Homo sapiens: one gene and its partners. The protein of the gene in region 4 interacts with the protein of the main gene of each other region in a pairwise test. Each region holds a gene or a part of one and is shown on either strand. Other genes may lie near its edges. The genes, in order: ZMYM5, SHANK2, C1orf116 and HOMER1.

Evidence for each region.
Region 1: the proteins of HOMER1 (region 4) and ZMYM5 interact in binary tests that used the Homo sapiens proteins (3 or more experiments, as listed by UniProt).
Region 2: the proteins of HOMER1 (region 4) and SHANK2 interact in binary tests that used the Homo sapiens proteins (3 or more experiments, as listed by UniProt).
Region 3: the proteins of HOMER1 (region 4) and C1orf116 interact in binary tests that used the Homo sapiens proteins (3 or more experiments, as listed by UniProt).

Annotation. Positions count from the first base shown.
Region 1 is NC_000013.11:19,857,150-19,860,649, reverse strand, and holds part of ZMYM5 (zinc finger MYM-type protein 5), read left to right. Parts: intron 1-3,500. UniProt on the Homo sapiens protein: Functions as a transcriptional regulator.
Region 2 is NC_000011.10:71,241,708-71,247,099, reverse strand, and holds part of SHANK2 (SH3 and multiple ankyrin repeat domains protein 2), read left to right. Parts: intron 1-3,571; exon of another isoform or gene 3,572-3,704; intron 3,705-5,392. UniProt on the Homo sapiens protein: Seems to be an adapter protein in the postsynaptic density (PSD) of excitatory synapses that interconnects receptors of the postsynaptic membrane including NMDA-type and metabotropic glutamate receptors, and the actin-based cytoskeleton.
Region 3 is NC_000001.11:207,021,576-207,026,967, forward strand, and holds part of C1orf116 (specifically androgen-regulated gene protein), read right to left. Parts: intron 3,490-5,392; coding exon 3,312-3,489; intron 1,906-3,311; coding exon 383-1,905; 3' UTR 1-382. UniProt on the Homo sapiens protein: Putative androgen-specific receptor.
Region 4 is NC_000005.10:79,503,083-79,508,474, reverse strand, and holds part of HOMER1 (homer protein homolog 1), read left to right. Parts: intron 1-5,392. UniProt on the Homo sapiens protein: Postsynaptic density scaffolding protein. Binds and cross-links cytoplasmic regions of GRM1, GRM5, ITPR1, DNM3, RYR1, RYR2, SHANK1 and SHANK3.

The DNA of each region.
Region 1 (3,500 bases), on a different chromosome or scaffold from region 4:
CCTGGTCAACATGGTGAAACCCCGTCTCTACTAAAAATACAAAAATGGGCTGGGCATGGTGACTCACACCTGGAATCTCAGTACTTTGGGAGGCCAAGGCAGGCAGATCACCTGAGGTCGAGAGTTCAAGACCAGCCTGACCAACATGGAGAAACCCTGTCACTACAAAAAAAAAAATACACACACACACACACACACACATACACACACACACACACAAAATTAGCCGGGCCTGGTGGCACATGCCTGTAATACCAGCTACTTGAGAGGCAGAGGTTATGGTGAGCCGAGATTGTGCCATTGCACTCCAGTCTGGGCAACAAGAGCAAAACTCTGTCTCAAAAAAAAAAAAAAAAATTAAACGGGTGTGCTGGTGGGTGCCTGTCATTCCAACTACTCAGGAGGCTGAGCCAGGAGAATCACTTGAACCCAGGAGGCGGAGGTTGCAGTGAGCCAAGATCACACCACTGCACTCCAGCCTGGGCGACAGAGTGAGACTCCATCTATAATTCTTTTTTTTTCCTCTTTTTTTTTTTTTTTTTTTTTTTGAGACAGTCTTGCCCTGTCACCCAGGCTGGAGTGCAATGGCGTGATCTAGGCTCACTGCAACCTCTGCCTCCTGGGCTCAAGCGATTCTTGTGCCTCAGCCTCCTGAGTAGCTGAGACTATAGGTACATGCCACCACGTTGGCTAATTGTTGTATTTTTAGTAGAGACAAGGGACTGACCATGTTGGCCAGGCTGGTCTCGAACTCCTGACCTAAGTGATCCGCCCGCCTTGGCCTCCCAAAGTGCTGGGATGATAGGCACCCACTACCACACCCGGCCTGTGTAATTAGTTTTTTAAAAATTTTTATTTAAAATTTTTGTGGGTACATAGTAGGTGTTACATATATTGCATAATTCTTGACTGTTTTATTTATGATTAAGAATTGGGAACTAAAGGCCGGGCACAGTAGCTCACACCTGTAATCCCAGCACTTTGGGAGGCCAAGGTGGGCAGATCATGAGGTCAGGAGATTGAGACCATCCTGGCTAACACGGTGAAACCCCATCTTTACAAAAAATACAAAAAAAAAAATCAGCTGGGCATGGTGGCAGGTGCCTGTAGTCCCAGCTACTCAGGAGGCTGAGGCAGGAGGATGGCGTGAACCTGGGAGGTGGAGCTTGCAGTGAGCCAAGATCGCGCCACTGCACTCCAGCCTGGGTGACAGAGCGAGACTCCGTCTCAAAAACAAACAAACAAACAAACAAACAAAAAACGGGAACTAAAAAGCAAATTGGAAGAGTGAGAGTGGGGTTTCCAACTTGAAGCTTGCGGGTGATCTTCTGGCCAATTGATGGGGAACCCCATAGGTTAATATTTTTAGGACTTTCCTTTTTTGCTGATTCTTAGTTCCGCAGGGAAGAGTCTTGCTCAGAAAGAAAGCCTCCAGAAAAGAGTTTGCTGCCTGGAAAATAGAAGTCTGGATGCCAGCTCTCTGGGAATCAAGTAGGAGAGGGGACATTTTTTTTTTTGAGATGGAGTTTTGCTCTTGTTGCCCAGGCTGGAATGCAGTGGCGTGATCTCGGCTCACTGCAACCTCTGCCTCCTGGGTTCAAGCAATGGAGAGGAGATATTTCATGGTATTGAAACATTCCCCAGTGCTTGGTGAACCCAAGACTTAGATCTTATGTTCTATCTTATCAAAGAAAAAATTTTTAGAATCTGTGCTAGGATGGGGAAAGGCCTGTCACCATCAACTTGATGGGAGGGAAGATATCTCTCAACCTCTTTTCTTAGCATCTGCCCATTCTGTTCCAGGGATATGTGGTGCTACAGATTTCTGAGCCTACAGTGGAAATCAGAATGTTTCTTGGCTTTTTATTCACTGTTTTAGACTCTGGCTATCTCAGGTTGGCAGTTAACCATTCATCCATCTGTTCTTTGGCTTATAAAATCATATTGCTTTTGTTTCTTATTCTTCCTTTCCTTGTGGTAGTCCTGTTTAGGGGAGTTTTGGAAGGGAACGAAGTTAGTTGTATGTGATCAATCGGCCATCTTTTTTTTTTTTTTTTTTTTTTTGAAACAGCGTCTCTCAGTCTGTCACCCAGGCTGGAGTGCAGTGGCCCATCTCGGCTCACTGCAGCCTCTATCTCCCAGGCTCAAACAAGCTGCCTGCCTCAGTTTCCCAAGTAGCTGGGACCACAACCATGTGCCACTATGCCTGGCTAATTTTTGTATTTTTTGTAGAGACAAGGTTTCGCCATGTTGCCTAGGCTGGTCTTGAACTCCTGGACTCAAGCGATCCACCTGCCTAGGCCTCCCAAAGCGCTGGGATTACAGGGGCATTATACTGCACCTGGCCCACTTTACTGTCTTAATCCCTGCTGGGCTAGTGATTTCTAGGCAGAGTTGTTTTTTCTGTTTGTTTTTTGTCTTTGTGGTTTTTTTGTTTTTTTTTTTTAATTTTTAGAGACAGGTCTAACTCTGTTGCCCAGACTTTAGTGCTGTGGTGTGGTCATAGCTCACTGCAGCCCTGAACTCCTGGGCTCAAGTGATTCTCCTGCCTCAGTCTCCCAAGTAGCTGGGGATTACAGGCGTGCACCACCATGCCCAGCTAATTATTTTATTTTATTATATTTATTTTTTATTTTTGAGACAGGGTCTTGCTCTGTTGCCCAGGCTGGAGTGCAGTGGTGTGATCATGGCTCACTGCAACTTTGACCCCCTGGGCTCAAGCCATCCTTCCACCTCAGCCTCCCAAGTAGCAGCGACTACAGGCGTATGCCACCATGTTGGACTTTTTAAATTTTTGTAGAGAGGGGTCTCTCTGCATTGCCCAGGCTGGTCTTGAACTCCTGGGCTCAAGCTATCCTCCCATCTTATTCAGCCTCCCAAAGTGCTCAGATTATAGGCATGAGCCACTGTACCTGGCCTTTATTTTTTTGTAGAGATGAGTTCTCAGTTTGTTGCCCAAGTTGGTCTTGAACTCCTGGCCTCAAGTGATCCTCCTGCCTTGGCCTCCCTAAGTGTTAGGATTATAGGTGTGAGGCACCAGGCCCAATTTAGATAGTAATTTTGTACCTAGTTCCTGCAGTAATTCTCTTGCTATTTGTGGTAGTAGTTCAGTTGACTCTTCTTTTTTCTGATCTCATTACTTTTGTGAGTACCTTCAGAGTCATGGTACACCTTTATATCTGATTTTAAATAGGTGTGCTTATATACTCAACTGTGAAGTGTCTCTGAAAGTAGTCTACAAGAAGAGCTAAATAGGTCAAAGTACATTTATTCATTTCTTTGTTTTATGTTAACCCTTATCTTTACACCTAAATATCCCGTTAAATTTACGTTGTTTCCCATTCTCTAGAGATAGTTTACATGTAAGCATTTTGCTAGTGTTATAATTTGTGTATGAATAAGATACCACAAGAAGACTAGTTAAATGTTTAAAATTAGACAGTTGCTGAAATCCCAGCATGTAGCAATGTAGCATAGTATTTGCCTAAATACCTTTTTAT
Region 2 (5,392 bases), on a different chromosome or scaffold from region 4:
TAATAGACTTTTATGCTCATGGGTCTTTTATTAATCAACCTAGCATACTTCTCTGCACGAAAAATATACATAAATTGACTTTCATAAAATTTCCCATGACCTGGAGTTGCTAAGTATTTAAAAAAATTACTTCTGAATTGAAAAAGCTGTACAGTCATTGCTGGGGCGCAGTTGGTCAAAAACTATAAATATATTACAGATTTTTAGAAATGGAAAAGGGGAGCTGTTACTGGAGCTGCCTCTCTGAGTGAGAAGGCAGTGGGTGTTTTTGGTGTTTTAATTGAAGCCCTAGTTGCATTAGCCCTTTTGTTTTGGTATCAGGAGGGCCCTTCACCTGGAGCTGCACCACCCCCTCACCAGCTTCCGGGGGATAGCTATGCCTTTCTTATGTAAAAGAGCCTCAGGGATGTTAGGGAGGGGAGGTGGGCAGGGGATCCAAGGCCTTTCTCCACTGAGCAATTTCAGGAAAGACTTGGCTACCCTTTAGACTGAGCTGGGTCTACGTGGAAAGGGTCCTTGCACCTCAGTTTGAAGCCCCCTGCAAGGGAGATCTTAGTTCACAAGATTACACCTGTACTCAAGGTCCTGCAGGTGATTCTTACCTGGGGACAGTGATGATACTTACGTGAAGGCAGTGACATGTGATGCCAGGTGTGTGCTCTGCATACTGCCAGGCTTTGCTGCCTCCCTGCAGACTTGGGGGTGTCCTGCCCCACGTCTTCCTCACTCCGGCTCATCAGTCCCCTCCTCTTCTCAAGGAGAATCCAGAGTCAGCACCTAGAGTCCTCGGTGGGGGTGGGGAATGGCCAAGAGTCTGGACAGCTGGCAGTCTGCTCCCTGGTCCACTGGGGTGGGTCCTGGGAGGCTTAGGGCCCAAGGAATGGGGTGCAGGGCATCCTGGGTTTCCAGACCTGGAGCTGACACAGACTTCCGGGCTCCTGGGAGGTGGGAAATGAGCTTCCAAGCCTGTCTTTCCTGAAAATCCTGCCCTGGATTCCTTCCCTGGGGAGAATGCAGGCTTCCTGGGGAGTGGAGGGGGATGCTTCTGTGGCCTCATTTGTACCCCTGAGAGCATAGGGCTCAGCCGTTCCTGTCCATGTTTTTCCTGCCACCCCGCACAAATGTCCCTGGGATTTGAAGAATCTGCTCCACTCCCCTCTTCCCGTACAGGGGCCTGCAAACTAGAGGCATTTGCCCCTGGGCCAGCCGGGCTCCTGTCTGACCCCTCCTCACGAGGTGGACAGGTCCCCCAGGAAAGGGACCACGCCTTGCTCCTGTCTGCATTTCAAGGTCCTACAGTGGCCCCAAGCATGGACCAGGGGACTTTGGCAGGGGAAGATACTGACCCGATGGCGTCGCTACTGCCCCTCGTCTTGGTTCTGGACTTTCCCTCCCTCGAGGGTCATTCAGCTCCAGTGGCTGAACTTGCCGAAGGTCGTGTGGCCCAGCTGGGATCCACACCTGGCGGCTGCCCACTCCACCGTGCAGAAGAAGGCACCGGTCGCTTCCCCGGCCTCCAGATTGCCTCCTGGGTGGCACACCAGTTTATTTTTCTGTTCACTTTCAGGTAAAGCAGATGAGGTAGCACAGTGGTTGTCAGACTTCTAGCTTAAGGAATCTTTTTTGCTCTCTTAGCATTTTGAAGGACCCAGAAGCTTTTTATGTATGAGCACGAATCTATTGTTATTTACGCTATTAGAATTTACAAATATCTAATTATTAATGCATTTAAAAATAGTAATAAACTCATGACATGTTGGTATAAATAATGTGTTTTTATGGATAACAACTATTTTCAAAATAAGAAAAACACTTGGTGAGGCCGGTCGAGGTGGCTCAGGCCTGTAATCCCAGCACTTTGGGAGGCTGAGGCAGGAGGATTGCTTGAGGCCAGGAATTTGAGACCAGCCTAGGCAATATAATGAGACCCCATCTCTACAAAAAATAAAAAATTAGCCAGGTGTAGTGGCACGCACCTGTGGTCCCAGCTACTCAGGAAGCTGAGGTGGGAGGATTACCTGAGCCTGAGAGGTCGATGTTGCAGTGAGCCGTGATCACGCCACTGTACTCTAGCCTGGGTGACAGAGTGAGGAAAAAAAATAGTGCAGTGGCTCACACCTGTAACCCCAGCACTTTGGGAGGCCGAGACGGGTGGATCACTTGAGGTCAGGAGTTCGAGACCAGCCTGGCCAAAATGGTGAAACCCCATCTCCACTAAAAATACAAAAATTAGCCAGGCACAGTGGGGCACACTTGTAGTCCCAGCTACTCAGAAGGCTAAGGCACAAGAGATCACTTGAACCCGGCAGGCGGAGGTTGCAGTGAGCCAAGATTGCCCCACTGCACTCTAGCCTGGGCAACAGAGTGACAGTCCATCTCAACAACAACAAAAAAACACTTGGTGAGAAGAGTGGCATTGTTTAACATTTTTGTGGTCTTTTTGCTGTGAGGTTTAATGGAAGACAGCTGGGTTCCCGTATCTGCTCCTGCAGTCAGCTTGTTGCAATATCACAAGTTTTGTAGCTTCCGTTGTGCACTTGGGAGAGGATGAGCTTGAAAAAGCAGCTCCCATCTCAGTGTTATGATGAGAATGGTTTGACTTCATAGATCTCTCGAATAGGCTGGTTCCCGGGGCTGCACGCTGAGAGCCTCTGGGAGGAGCGTGTGATCCGCCTTGTCAGTGCATGGGTCCCGTTTGAAAGCTGGCTGTGCCATGTGGTCCAAAGGGTGCTTTGAATGATGCATGTACCTTTTCTTGTCGTTCAGGATATGTCTGTGGAGTTTAGTCAGGGGCTTCAGACAGCCACCAGCTGGTTCCGACCCCAGGGGCAGGCCCTCTGATTGTGGGGTCTAGGATGGTGGGAGCATGCAGAGGCACCTTCCAGGCTGTGGGGTCAAGGAGGCTGGCAGAGCCTAAGGCAGTTTAGGAGACTCTGAGAGAGCAGCCTGGCCAATTTATAGAGTGAGGCAGGCTTGCAAGTGTAGACAGGAGAGTGGAGAGGACTTTGTAGGTGTCTGGCTGCCCAAGGAAGCCTATAGTTTTCTTTTGAAGTCTGGTTTTGGTATCAGAGTAATACTGGCCTCATAAGATGACTTGGGAAGCATTGTCTTCCATTTTTTTCTGAAAAGTTTATGCAAAATTGGCCTTCATTCTTCTTTAAATGTTTGGTAGAATTCACCAATAAAGCCATCTGGGCCTAGGCTTTTCTTTGTGAAAACTTTTAAAATTATTGATTGGATCTCTGCTTGTCATAGGTCTTTTTAGATTTTCTGTTTCTTCTTGAGTCAAGTTTGTTAGTTTGTGTCCCACCAGAAATGTGTCCACTTCATGTGAGTTTCTCTAATGTGGTTGCTATGTAGTTGTTTGTAGCACCGTCTCATTATTATTATTGTTATTATTTTTTTGAGACAGAGTCTTGCTCTGTTGCCTAGGCTGGAGTGCAGTGGCGTGATCTCAGCTCACTGCAAGCTCCGCCTCCCGGGCTTACACCATTCTCTTGACTCAGCCTCCCGAGTAGCTGGCACTACAGGCGCCCACCACCAGGCCCAACTAATTTTTTTGTATTTTTAGTAGAGACGGGGTTTCACCGTGCTAGCCAGGATGGTCTTGATCTCCTGACCTCGTGATCCGCCCGCCTCAGCCTCCCAAAGTTCTGGGATTACAGGCATCAGCCACCACGCCCGGCCTGACTCCTTTTAATTCTGTAAGTTGGTAATAATGTCCCTTCTTTCATTCCTGAGTTTGGTAATTTGAGTCTTCCCTTCTTTTCTTGATCATTTCAGCTCAGGTTTGTAAATTTCGTTGATCTTTTCAAATAACCAACTTGTAGTTTCATTGATTTTCTTTATTGCTTTTCTAGCTTAGATTTCATTAACTTCAGCCCTAACCTTTATTATTTCCTTCCTTCTGCTAGCTCAGTTTCAGTTTCCCGTTCTTTTTCTGACTCTCACAAGGTGGAAGGTTTTGGTTATTGATTTGAGATTTTTCTTCTTTTTAACATAGACATTTACAGATCTGAATTTCCTTTAAGTACTGCTTTAGTTGTATTCCATAAGTTTTGATGTGTTTTGTCTTCTTTTTCACTCGTTTCAAAGTGTTTTCCAATTTCCCCGTGGTTTATTCTCTGACCCATTGGCTATTTAGATGTCTGTTTAATTTCCACATATTTGTGCATTTGTAAAATAAATTTCGAATTTCATTCTATTGTGGTTGGAGAACATTATTTGTATAATTTCAGTCCTGCTGATGTTTAATGAGGCTGTTTTATAGCCGGGCATGAGGCCTCTCCTGGAGAATGTTCCACGTGCCCTTGAGAAGAATGAGTATTCTGCCGTCTTTTGTGGCATGTGCTGCAGGTGTCTGCTAGGCTGCTCTAGACTCTGGGATACAACAGTGAACCAGACAGACAAATATTTCTGCCCTTGTAGGGTCGACATCCTCGCCAGGGGAGCAAACAATAATTAAAGGAGATCATAAATAAGCAGTGATGTAGTGTGGGAGGAAAGGAGAGCTTGCTGGTGGGGGCTGGGAGCCAGGGGGGCTGCTGTTTTAGCAGGATGGTCGGGGTGAGCTGCATTGAGGTAGCGGTCCTTGAGCAAACACTTAAAGGAGGTAAAGGAAGCGGTGTGTGATACAGGAAGAGTTCAGTGGAAATTGAGAGCACTTTTTTTCCCAATGCACATTTTATAAATTGTGCAAAATACCTATAACATAAAAAGTTACCCTTTTCACCATTTTTAGGTGTGTAGTTCTGAGGCATTAAGGATGCTCATCGTGCTCTGCAGCCATCGTCACCATGTATCTGTAGAACTCTTCAGCTTGCAGAACTGAAACTACGTCCCCACTAAACACTAGCAAACCAGCCCCCTTCTCCCAGCCCCTGGCGACCACCAGTCTGTTTTCTGTCTCTTTGACTTCTGTAGGGACCTCATCCAAGTGGAATCATGCAGTGTTTGTCTTTTTGAGTCTGGCTTAATTCACTCAGCATAATGTTCTCAAGCCTCATCCATGTTGTAGCGTGTGTCAGAATTTCCTTCCTTTTTGTGGCTGAGTAATATTCCATTGTGTGGATGGGCCACATTTTGTTTATACATTCATCCATCCTTGAGGACCTGGGTGGCTTCACCCTCTGGCTGTTGTGAATAATGCTACTGCGAACATGGTTGTGCAAGTATCTTGAGTCCTTGCTTTTAGAAAACACCTTCAAAAGCAGCGTCCAGCCCCAGGCCCGTCTGGTCTTGAGATACTAAAGCTGAGATCTTTTACCCACTCGCTCCAGCCTAGGCTGCTTTCTCACAGAAGGAGGCCCCACCTTTCTTCATGGGTCTCAGGAGAAAGTAGGGGTGACCCTGAGTGTGGGAGAAATTGTGGGACATGACTCCTTCCCATGTC
Region 3 (5,392 bases), on a different chromosome or scaffold from region 4:
GACTTTTTGTCTCAGGCATGGCCAGCCCCTTCACTCAGCTCTCACTAGGCTGGACTCTACCCAATGTAAGAAAACATCTAACAAGAGCAAAATTCTGAACAGTGACTCATTGTGTTATATCAATAGCTTCAGTGATGTATCCAGCGGCCCCCCCTCCACACACACACCAAACACACACACACACACCCTCTTGTGGAGATCACCTTCAGAATGATCCACATGGGAACTCAATGGCACAACACTGAATATAAATGTATGCTTGGACTCAAATCTCTCCCTCCCATTCATCTTGAGCCCTGAGTTGCGTGGTGGCAAAGGCTCCCAAGTGGAGCATGTGTCTCTTCTTGTTCAGCCAGGACAGGGTCTGTACTGGTCGCAGAGTCTACTCCTTCAACAGTCCCAGCTTCTTCAGGGCCTCCCTTCTGTGTTCATTGGGGACACCCTTTGGGGAGATCTTGACACTGACACAGGGGGGGCGAGGAAGCTTGTCACGGCTCTGTCCTTGGTAGGACAGGCGCTTGGAGCTCTGCTCCTGCTCCAGGTCAGCCAGCTTGCCTACCTGGATACCTGCAAAATCTTTCCCCGTGCCCAGGGAGGCCGGGCGGGGCCGAGAATTACGTAAGACACTGGGCGAGATCTTGTCCAAGAAGGAGCCCTTTCCCAGAGAAGTGCTGGTTTTGGGGCTGGCATCTTTCTCAGTTGAAAGGTAGCTGCTCAGTCCCACGCCTGAGCGCTCCAGAGTGTTGGACTTGAAGTTCATCTGTCTCAGGCCAGGGGTGTTGCTCTCCTGGAGAGTCAGCCCTGACTCTGGCTTCGGTGGAGTCAGGGCACTGTTTGCCCTTGGGGCCTTAGGGATAGAAATTGGCATAGATTTGCTAGCTGCAACATTGCCTGGAGCTGGAGACTTCATTGGCAAAGGTCCCTGAGCTGGACCTGGAGCTGGAGCCGGAGCTTGAGCCAGAGCCTTCCCAGCAGCAGGAATAGCTGCTGAGGCCTGGGCTGGAGCTGCAGGCTGAGCCAGACCTGGAGCTGGGGACAGATGCTGGGCCCGTGTCTCCTTGGGTCTGATGGAGCTGGTGGGCTTACTTAAGTGGAGTCCAGGCTCATCTTGATCCTGGGGTAGCCCCAGCTTCTCTAGAGCTTCTTTACGTGCTTTTCTCTGCTCTTGCAGTGAACAGGAGATCAGGCCAGAATCTCCAGGGGCAGCCTCAGTGTGGCGGGACAGCCAGTGCTGGGGGTCACTGTGGAAACTGCTTCGGCTGCTCTTCAGAACAATATTAGGTGGCAGCTTCCGGGGCTTAGGGGTTGTGAGGGGAGCTAGTCGGCTGTTTGGGTCCTCCCCTGATGAGAGGGGAGCATCTTCAGCTCTTGCATTCTGAGGCAACCCTGCAGGAGGAGGCTGGGGTTGTGTGTACCTGGTTGAGACTGTTTCCTTGGCTTTTTGGGACATGGCTTCTGAAGGAGTCTGCTCTCTTTCCTGGGAGCTGGATGGTGTGTGGAGCTGGGGTGTGTGGCCCTGCTGTCCTGGCCCCTCGGGCAGGCTGGCTTCCCTACACTGCTCTGGCTGGGTGTCCCGGAAAGCTTCTGGCGGAGGGATGAGCACCACGTCCAAGTCAAGGGCAGCCTCCTGGGGGCTGGCAGGTGCCTGCCTGGGTTGGCTGCTCTGGCTGACCTGTTCTTTCTCAGGCTCTGGCGCAAGCCTCCCCGGTTCTCCAGGGTTGTGACTGCTAGCCTGGGTGGTGCTTTTCCTGAAGTTCTGGCTTCTGGCAATGTGGATATTCCTAGGGAGGCTGTAGGAGCCAGACCTGAGGCCTAGGCCCTGGGGCTCAGGAGGGTGGGATGAGCTGGACTCAGTTACTGTCCTTGGCGTTCGTCCTTGCTGAGTGATGGTCTCCTCTGGACCTCCTGTGAGGGTCAGAAAGAACATAAAAGAGTGGACAGAAAAAGAGTGGACAGAGGTGAGGGCCCTGCTGCAGAGGGGAAAGCAATGACTTCCTGAACTCTGATCCCAAACTAGCAATGAATGGGTTTTATTTTGCCTTGTTTTCTTTGCTTTTACAAGAGCAGCACTTTTGTCTGGATATCATTTAGACTAATAGATCAGTAATAGCAGATCCAGGGCCAGGCGCAGTGTCTCATGCCTGTAATCCCAGCACTTTGGGAGGCCAAAGCAAGTGGATCATTTGAGCCCAAGAGTTCGAGACCAACCAGGGCAACATAAGAGACCCCCATTTCTACAAATAATAATAGCATATCTTTTTTTGACTGAGAATTAATTTTTCATGATGGGCGGCAAGAGAGTGACCCCTGATTGCTCTAAGTTATTGACTTGACCTCTCCCCAGTTTTCTACAGAGGCACCAGGGTTGGAGATAAATTTGGGACAGTTCCTTCTAGCTATTTTGGGCCTCCCAGATAACTGAGCCCAATGCAAGCCTCTGAATAAGTGATTTGCTCTTGATTCAACCAGGCTTCTGCCTTCTACTTGCACTTTCTATGAGCATGTGGATAATTCTGTAATAGCCATAGTGTCCCCACACCAGAAAGTGACTCCTTTCCTTCCAGTGAGCTAGGCAGGTACATCAGGCCCCCTGGGCCAGTGAATCAGCCTCATGGAGCAGGAAAGCCCTACGTCCCCATTTATAGCTCTAGCTCCAGGGAAGGTCTAACTACTTGTTAATAAATATTTGCTAAATGAAACAACACAAAACTGCAGCCCCAATACCAGCGGGACTGTCCTCAGGAGTAAAAGGTTTCTCACACCCTGGGACATGTGGCCCCACAGTCATGGCCACACTTGTGTGTTGTTTTGTTCCCCTTCTGCTGAGCCTGAATACCACTGGCTTTCCACGCTCTCTAACGAGGGCCTTGAGGTACTTCCCACTGCAGCTGGGGAGCCCTTCCTTCTCCTTATCTCTCCTACCCTTGTCCTCTGTGTCACCCAGATTAGCTCTCTAGACTGACTCAGTCTCTCCAGAGCCAACCACCCAGCCCTCCCTGACTCCCTCCCCCGCCTCTGCGGTCATATCTCTTTAGAATTTTTCCACAGGAGAATGGGAGCTGGTCAAACCCCTTTCCCTTCTAGAGCTCTGATACTTCATAGACAGACATAGGAAGCTGGCTTGCCAGGGGTCCCTCCTTCCCTCCAGGGACAAGGCTCTGTTCTAGCCAGGAGAGTGGTGAGGAGTGTGGCTACACCTTCTTCTGCCTGTGACCCTTGGGGTAGAGGGCAGGCGAGGTAGAAAGTGGCCGGAGGGGACATATTGATTTTCTGGGTTTTGCTGGGGTTCCACCCCAGAGGGTCTGCCTTACCCCGGGGAGTGGGTTGGGTTATGGGCAGTGCTCGGAAACCTCTGGGAGTTGTGGCTGGCTCAGACTCGTCAGTGGACAGTCCGCTGTCAGCCTCCGTGTCCAGTGAGCCAATGGTCTCCTCCAGGAAGAGCAGACACTCCTTCTCTTCAGTGGACAGGAAGTCGTAGCTGCTATCACTCTGTTGGGTTTGGGGTTGGGGGCGGGGGCGGGGAGGCGGGGGGGAGGGCGAGAAGAAGAACAGGAGAGGGAGAGAGAGCTGTGAGAAAGCGCTCCCTCCGCAGAAACTGGCGGGGCCTGAGAACCACCCTGCAGAGAGGAAGGAATGCTGAAGAGCTGGAAACCTTTCCCTCCTGCTACTCTGCAAAGCTGCTGGAGTTGCCTCCTGAAACTGTAGGCACCAGGGAGGGCAGAGTCTGTCAGGAGGCTGGCCCACTAGCGCCCAGCTCTGGAGCTGGGCAGGCACATGGCAGGGGCCTTTCTTTTGCTCAGTCCTGGCTTGAATGCTTAGGGGCACAGATTAGAAGCAGTCCCAAGTTTCAATGTTTGACAGCCTTTGTCAAACATCTCACTTTGAGCACCTCTGATTTAGCTCCAAATAAGAAGTGCAACATAACAATTTGACCTGAAACTTCAGTGGTATTGCTTTTAACTTTTAAAAGTACTTCTGCATACTTGATCTGGTATGTCAAGGGCAGTATGAGGAAAAGCAGGAAATGAAGCCAGCTATGAGCTGCCAGGCCAGTAGGAACTGTGGCATGACTGGCCACAGATAAATGTACTAAATGATTTGTACTTGACTTTGAAATGCATTCCATACGGGAATTTTTCCCCTTGTACATTTACTTTCTTGATGACATTTGGCTCTGGCTAATGTTCAAGTAAGTGTGCATTTCTAAAGCAAATATTAACTTAAAGGGGGAGGTTGGTGGAGAAACTGGATGGTATGGGAGGAGGGAAAAGCAGCTTAGTATTAAATATTAAGTAGATCTTAAAGTAGATCATATTCATTATGAGAGAGTACATAGAGGTTTTTGGAAGAAAATAATAATGGTCATCTCAGACAGTTACTGTCTATGTTGTATGGGGCTAGAAGTTTGCTGGAATAGTTGCTCTTCCACAGAGGAGGTTGAAGGGAAAACAAAAGGGCAAATTGGAATATAAGAAATTTGGGCCAAGTCTCTTCTTGGCATCTCCAGCCCTTTTCCTAATATTTGGGACACTTCAGAGTTGTATATTCTTCAGGCCCACTCAGATGGCCAGGAAAGATTTTGAGACAGCTCTAAAAATATCCTGGAGGGAGGGGAGAGGGTTGCAGAATAACCCTTCCATTTGCCTCTGGAACTTCCTTTCGCATGTGGGCCTACATGTTAAAGCAAGCCCCAAATATAGCCCCTGGAAGCTCTGAAGCTGACGCCAAGAGTTTCTTGAAGAAAAATATCTTTATTGTCCTCTTCCTCCTAAAATAGCCTTGCCAAGGATAAGCTGACTCTGAGTTTCTCCTTCATGAATGATTCACTTTGAAAACCTTTAATCCCTGTCACATTCTGTGTCCAATGCTATGTGACTATTCACGTTGGCCTCAGCCTAAAAGACATAGAAAGACGTCTCCACAGCCCCATTATCTAGGGTCAAAATGAAATTTGTATGATTGTCTGCACTTTGGATTTGTGCATGTGTGTTTCTTTCTCTACTCTATTTTTACATATCAAAATCCACTGGTTGTCTTAAACATCTTGACATTCAGTAGACACCCTTAAATTTTCAAATACCTCTATAGGATACAATGCAAAAAAGCATAAATTCTCTATGATTCTTATGTATGTGACAAGCATGAACAACAAATGTTTGCGTCTGGATGCAGCACAGATTTACTCTTTCACACCAGCCTCACAACAACTGAGATTTAAATTCATGCCCAGAAAAATTACAGTTTATTAAATGCCACTCACAAGTAGCTAAACACAGTGACTTTGGAAGATTCTCAGTCTCTGCTCCTAGAAAGGCTGATTCTTTTCTATATAGAGGCATATGCTAGGTGCTTTACCTGTATCACATTTACTCCCCACAAATTGAATTGGGTA
Region 4 (5,392 bases):
ATCAAATGAAAGATTGGATTATCCTGTAGTTTAGTGTGTTTAGAGGTTTTTTTGGCTATGACCCGTTGGAAAGATAAGCATCTTTACATTGCAACCCAATATGCTTGTATATAAATGATAAAATGTCACTACATAATACCCTTGCTTTGTATGGTACACTCTGGTAGTTTCTATTCTGTTCCGTTCTATTTTATTTTTAAGATAGACTGATGATGGTGACCCACTCAATTTATTTAATGACGCTGTGTTAGCAACTGGTAATTTGAAAAGCACTTCTCTTCTGTGTGAAGATTACTAAAGGGTTTTAAGCAGAGTAAGAACATGATCAGGGAAGTAGAATAAGAAAGCAATTTTAAAAATCATTTACAATTTGGTTTTGTGTCTTGTATCCTGTGGAAACACCAAGCCAGAACAATGAACTCTGGCTGGGTAGAGGAAGTGGACAGTTGGGCAGGCCCTGGAAGGTTCCGAAGTGGGGAGGGGAGGGATGGTGACTGAGAGATGTGTAGTTGGCTGAACGGGGCTTTTTCAGAATTAGGACATTTCATTGGAGAGGTAAGAATGTAGCAAAGAGCATGGTATGTTCTTAGCAGAGTCACTAACTATGGGTCATAAAATAGTGAATTTGGGAGTTAAGGGGTTGACAGAAGAAACTGTCCTTATTCATAGTTTATAGTTTTGAGTGATTAAACATCTCAGAAGAAAAGGTGGTTATATCCCAAAAGGTCTAACCTCTCTACTGCCATGTGATTTTTTTTTTTTTCAGTCTTTAGTGTTTAGTTGAAGTATTTATTTTTAGTTACTGGATTGTTATTTCAGATTAATATGACTAACTGGACAGAAGAGTAGGGAAAATGAGTGCCGAGTGCTTAATGTTTTCTGATATAATTTTTTTCTGATGTAGTTTTTAAATGACTATAAAACATTTTACATAGATTTATATCTCAGGTCGTATCTCGTGGAATGAAATGTGCAGTTTTTTTGTGTTGCATATTTGTAATGCCTTATGACCCGTGGCTAATATTTCTGTTTGTTTTTGAAAAGTTGAGTGATTTTGAGGCATTGCAAAGTTTCAGGTCTGTTAAATATGTTCATTTCAAAAGAATCTACATGTGATAAGGAATATTTATTTAGATTTTAGCCCATCTACCATCTAGAAGAATTGAGATAAAATTTTCACATCTATCTTACTGAATGAGTATTGCAAGAGTAGGTAAAACTGTTTTTTTTTTGTTTTGGTTTTTTTTTTTTTTTTTTTTTTTGAGATAGAGCCTCACTCTGTCACCCAGGCTGGAGTGCAGTGGCGCGATCTTGGCTCACTGCAACCTCCGCCTCCCGGGTTCCAGCATTTCTCCTGCCTCAGCCTCCCAGGTAGCTGGGACTACTGGTGCGCGCCACCACACCTGGCTAATTTTTGCATTTTTTAGTAGAGACGGGGTTTCACCGTATTGGCCAGGCTGGTTTCGAACTCCTGACCTCGTGATCTGCCTGCCTCGGCCTCCCAAAGTGCTGGGATTACAGGCATGAGCCACCGCGCCCTGCCAAGAGTAGGTAAAACTTTTTAAAAGCTAATCATTCAATGGTCTTCAGTATGTGAATAAAATCATATATATATATATTTTTTTGTTTGTTTGGTTTTGTTTTTGAGACAGTGCAGTGGCCCATGCTGGAGTGCAGTGGTGCCATCATGGCTTACTGCAGCCTTGACCTCTCAGACTCAAGCAATCCTCCTACTTTAGACTCCCGAGTAGCTGGGACTATAGGCTCACACCACCATGGCAGGCTAATTTTTGTACTTTTTGTAGGCATGGGGTTTCATCATGTTGCCCAGGCTCGTCTTGAACTCCTGAACTCAAGTGATCCGTCTGCCTTGCTGTGAGCCATCACGCCTGGCCAAAATCATGTATTTTAATCTTAATTTTTACAGCACGCCTCTCCATAGTCTATAAAATTAGGACATCCATAATGACTCTCTGTTAAAAGAGTCAACTTTATTGATGAACTTATGTTCTTAATTTTAGCATTTCATACCTTTTGATACTCCTTTTTCCGTCTGTCCTGAGTGTAACACATTTGTCATTTCTGTGCTCCTTCATGAAATGTCTGAGAAAGGAAAAAAAGATGAAACTGATAAGAATCAATGCTGTTTGTTTTAAGCAGTATTTTTGAGGGAAATTATCAACACATATAATCTTTTTTGCTTTGCCTTTTTCTTCTACTTGGATTTTTTAAAATCTTGTTTTTGAAAGTTTTTATCGCTTGAACCTGTGAGGCGGAGGTTGCAGTGAGCCGAGATTGCCCCATTGCACTTGAGCCTGGGCAACCAGAGGGAAACTCCATCTCAAAAAAATAAATAAATAAATAAATAAAAGTTTTTAAAAATTTGTTCACTTCTCTGGTAAGTACAATTTAGAATTAATTTAATTTTTTTTGTCTGCTAAACATTTCAGATAATAGAATTAATTTTATAGGGTCATCTTTTTTACTATTCTTTCAGTGAGGTTTTGTCCGCCCAAAAATGGATTGTGAAGCCAGTATGGCTCTTGCGTAGCTAAAATAATTTTATACATAGAACTAACATTTGACTTAGTTAATAACTGAATCTTATTTACCCTTATTTATGTTTTTTTCTATTAAGGTAGACTACTAAAGGAAGGCAAAAAGTCATTGTTTTCTGTCTTGTATCAGAAAATAAAATTGTTTATAAAACCCCCCAAAACCAGTAATCTAATCAATGTTTTATCTTCATAGTACACTTACCTTTTCATTTTCTCTACCTTTTAAAAAATCACCTTTATCTCTTAACACCTAATATTAATATTAGCTTTAAAAATTAGCTTGGCTTTACGAACATCTTATTTTAATGTTCTTTCATAAAACAAGAAGAGTTTCAATGTTATCTTTTGAGAAGTGTTGGCACCATGTCCTCAAGGCACAAAAGTTGTAAGAATTGAGGGCTTTCTGTAAAATTACCAAGCAAGAGTTAGGTAGACATTAAATACAAACAAAAAACTGTGCTTAGGGAACACAATTTCATTACTTTACAAGATCATTGAAAGTCATGTTTATTATGTCATGTCTATTGGCATGTCTGGATCCATGTGGTCACATGCCTCAGAGTCCAGAGGCCTGTAGAGGAGAATGTCCATGATTCCCCCCCTTTCCATAGAATGGTTTGTTCCTAATTTCTCATTGTCTAGTTGGGGAGTCTTTTTTGAAACAGAGTCTTGCTGTGTCACCCAGGCTGGAGTGAAGTGGCACCATCTCAGCTCACTGCAACCTCCATGTCCCAGGCTCAGATGATTCTCCTGCCTCAGCCTCCGGAGTAGTTGGGACTACAGGTGCACCACCACACCTGGCTAATTTTTGTATTTTTGGTAGAGATGGGGTTTCATCATGTTGGTCCTGACCTCAAGTGCTCCACCCACCCTGGCCTTTCAAAGTGCTGGGATTATGGGCATGAGCTACTGTGCCCAGCCTAGTTGGGGAGTCTTAATAGAAGTCTACTGAGAGACATAGCTCTGATACATATCTCTTTGGGTATTATACGCTGTGCTTCCTAACCCACAAGTTCATAGTGCAGTACATATGTGCAATATTAGTTGAAAGGATTTGGGGGAATTAGTGCTCATAAATAGAAAATCCTGATTTCTAGCAATTAGGCCGATAGTTGGATATACCAATTATTTTTCTGATAATTTTTCTAAGTAAATTTTTGGATTCTTTTATATTTACGTATATCTCAATCTTAAGTAGTTATTGTCTTTCTTCTGTTTTATTTAAGTATTTATAAGAGTTGTTCTGAACAAGACTTTCTTTGTGTGAGTTGGAATTTTCTGCCCAGTTACTTTCTAGCTTCCCTCATTGGCTCTTAGTAATGATCTTTAGGACATGACTATCAAAGACCTCAAAATACTCATATTAGGAATTTCTATCAGTCAGTCTTCCTGGAAGATAAGTCTGTACATTCCTAAATGTATATGGGACAAATATTTTGAACCTATTATAATATTTAAGTTGCTTAGCCTATCCCTTTACCTTTCTGTGCCCTTTTTTTTTTTTTTGCTTATTCTTTTGTAAAACAGTGCTGTTTTCTTTCTTACTCTGTTATGAATCACTGTCTCATGGCTTTTAACATTAAAATTTGTGTGCTTTGCTTAATCACTCTGCCAGCTCCCAGGATGTTTACAGATTGAGGATTCCTCCTACTCTTGTTTACTGAGTATTGCCAGGGTTCTGTATACATTAAGCTCAGTGGGACTACTCCCAAGTCACTCTTAAACTCGTCTTTCTTGAGATTCTGTTGATTTAAAAAAAAAAATTCTAGATCTCGCAGGCTGCTGTTTTCCTTACCCAAGTGATGATCTGTAAGATTTTAGTTGTGTATTTCATTGTTGCTTTCATTTAGTATTTTACTATTGTTAAATTGATATTTATTGCTATGCATATGTTAGTATAGTGGAAATAGACATTAATGATGACATTGCTGTTTAATTGTATTTTGCAACATTTTAGTACAGATGCCCTTGAACAACACAGGTTTGAACTGTGTAGGTTCACTTAAATGCAGAGTTTCTTCCACTGCTGTCACCCCTGAGACAGCAAGACCAACCCTTCCTCCTCTTCCTCCTCAGCCTGCTCAATGTGAAGATGAAGATAAGAATATTTATGATGATCGACTTCCACTTAATGGATAGTAAATACATTTTCTCTTACTTATGATTTTCTTCTTTCTTTTTTTTTTTTTTTGGAGGCAGAGTCTTGCTGAATCCCACCCAGCTAATTTTTGTATTTTTAATAGAGACGGGGTTTTGCCATGTTGGCCAGGCTGGTCTTGAACTTCTGACCTCGGGTGAACCACCTGCCTCAGCCTCCCAAAGTGCTGAGATTACAGGCGTGAGCCATGGCACCTGGCCTCTGTTTTTTTTTTTTTTTTTTTTCTCTTTGTGACAGAGTCTCACTCTGTCACCCAGGCTGGAGTGCAGTGGCATGATCTTGGCTTACTGCAATCTCGCCTCCTGGGTTCAAGTGATTCTCTTGTCTCAGCCTCCTGAGTAGCTGGGATTACAGGCGCATGCTGCCAAGCCTGGCTAATTTTTGTATTTTTAGTAGAGACGGGATTTCGTGTTTTCCAGGCTGGTCTCGAGCTCCTGACCTCAAGTGATCTGCCTGCCTCAGCCTCCCAAAGTGTAGGGATTACAGGCGTGAGCCGCCATGCCTGGCCTGCTTTTCTTAATAACATGTTTTATTTTTCCCTAGTTTACTTAATTGTATGAGTACAGTATATAATACACATACAAAATGTGTTAATTGACTACGTTATCAATAAGGTTTCCAGTCAACAATAGGTTATGAGTAAAGTTTTTGAGGAGTTAAAAGTTACATGCAGGCT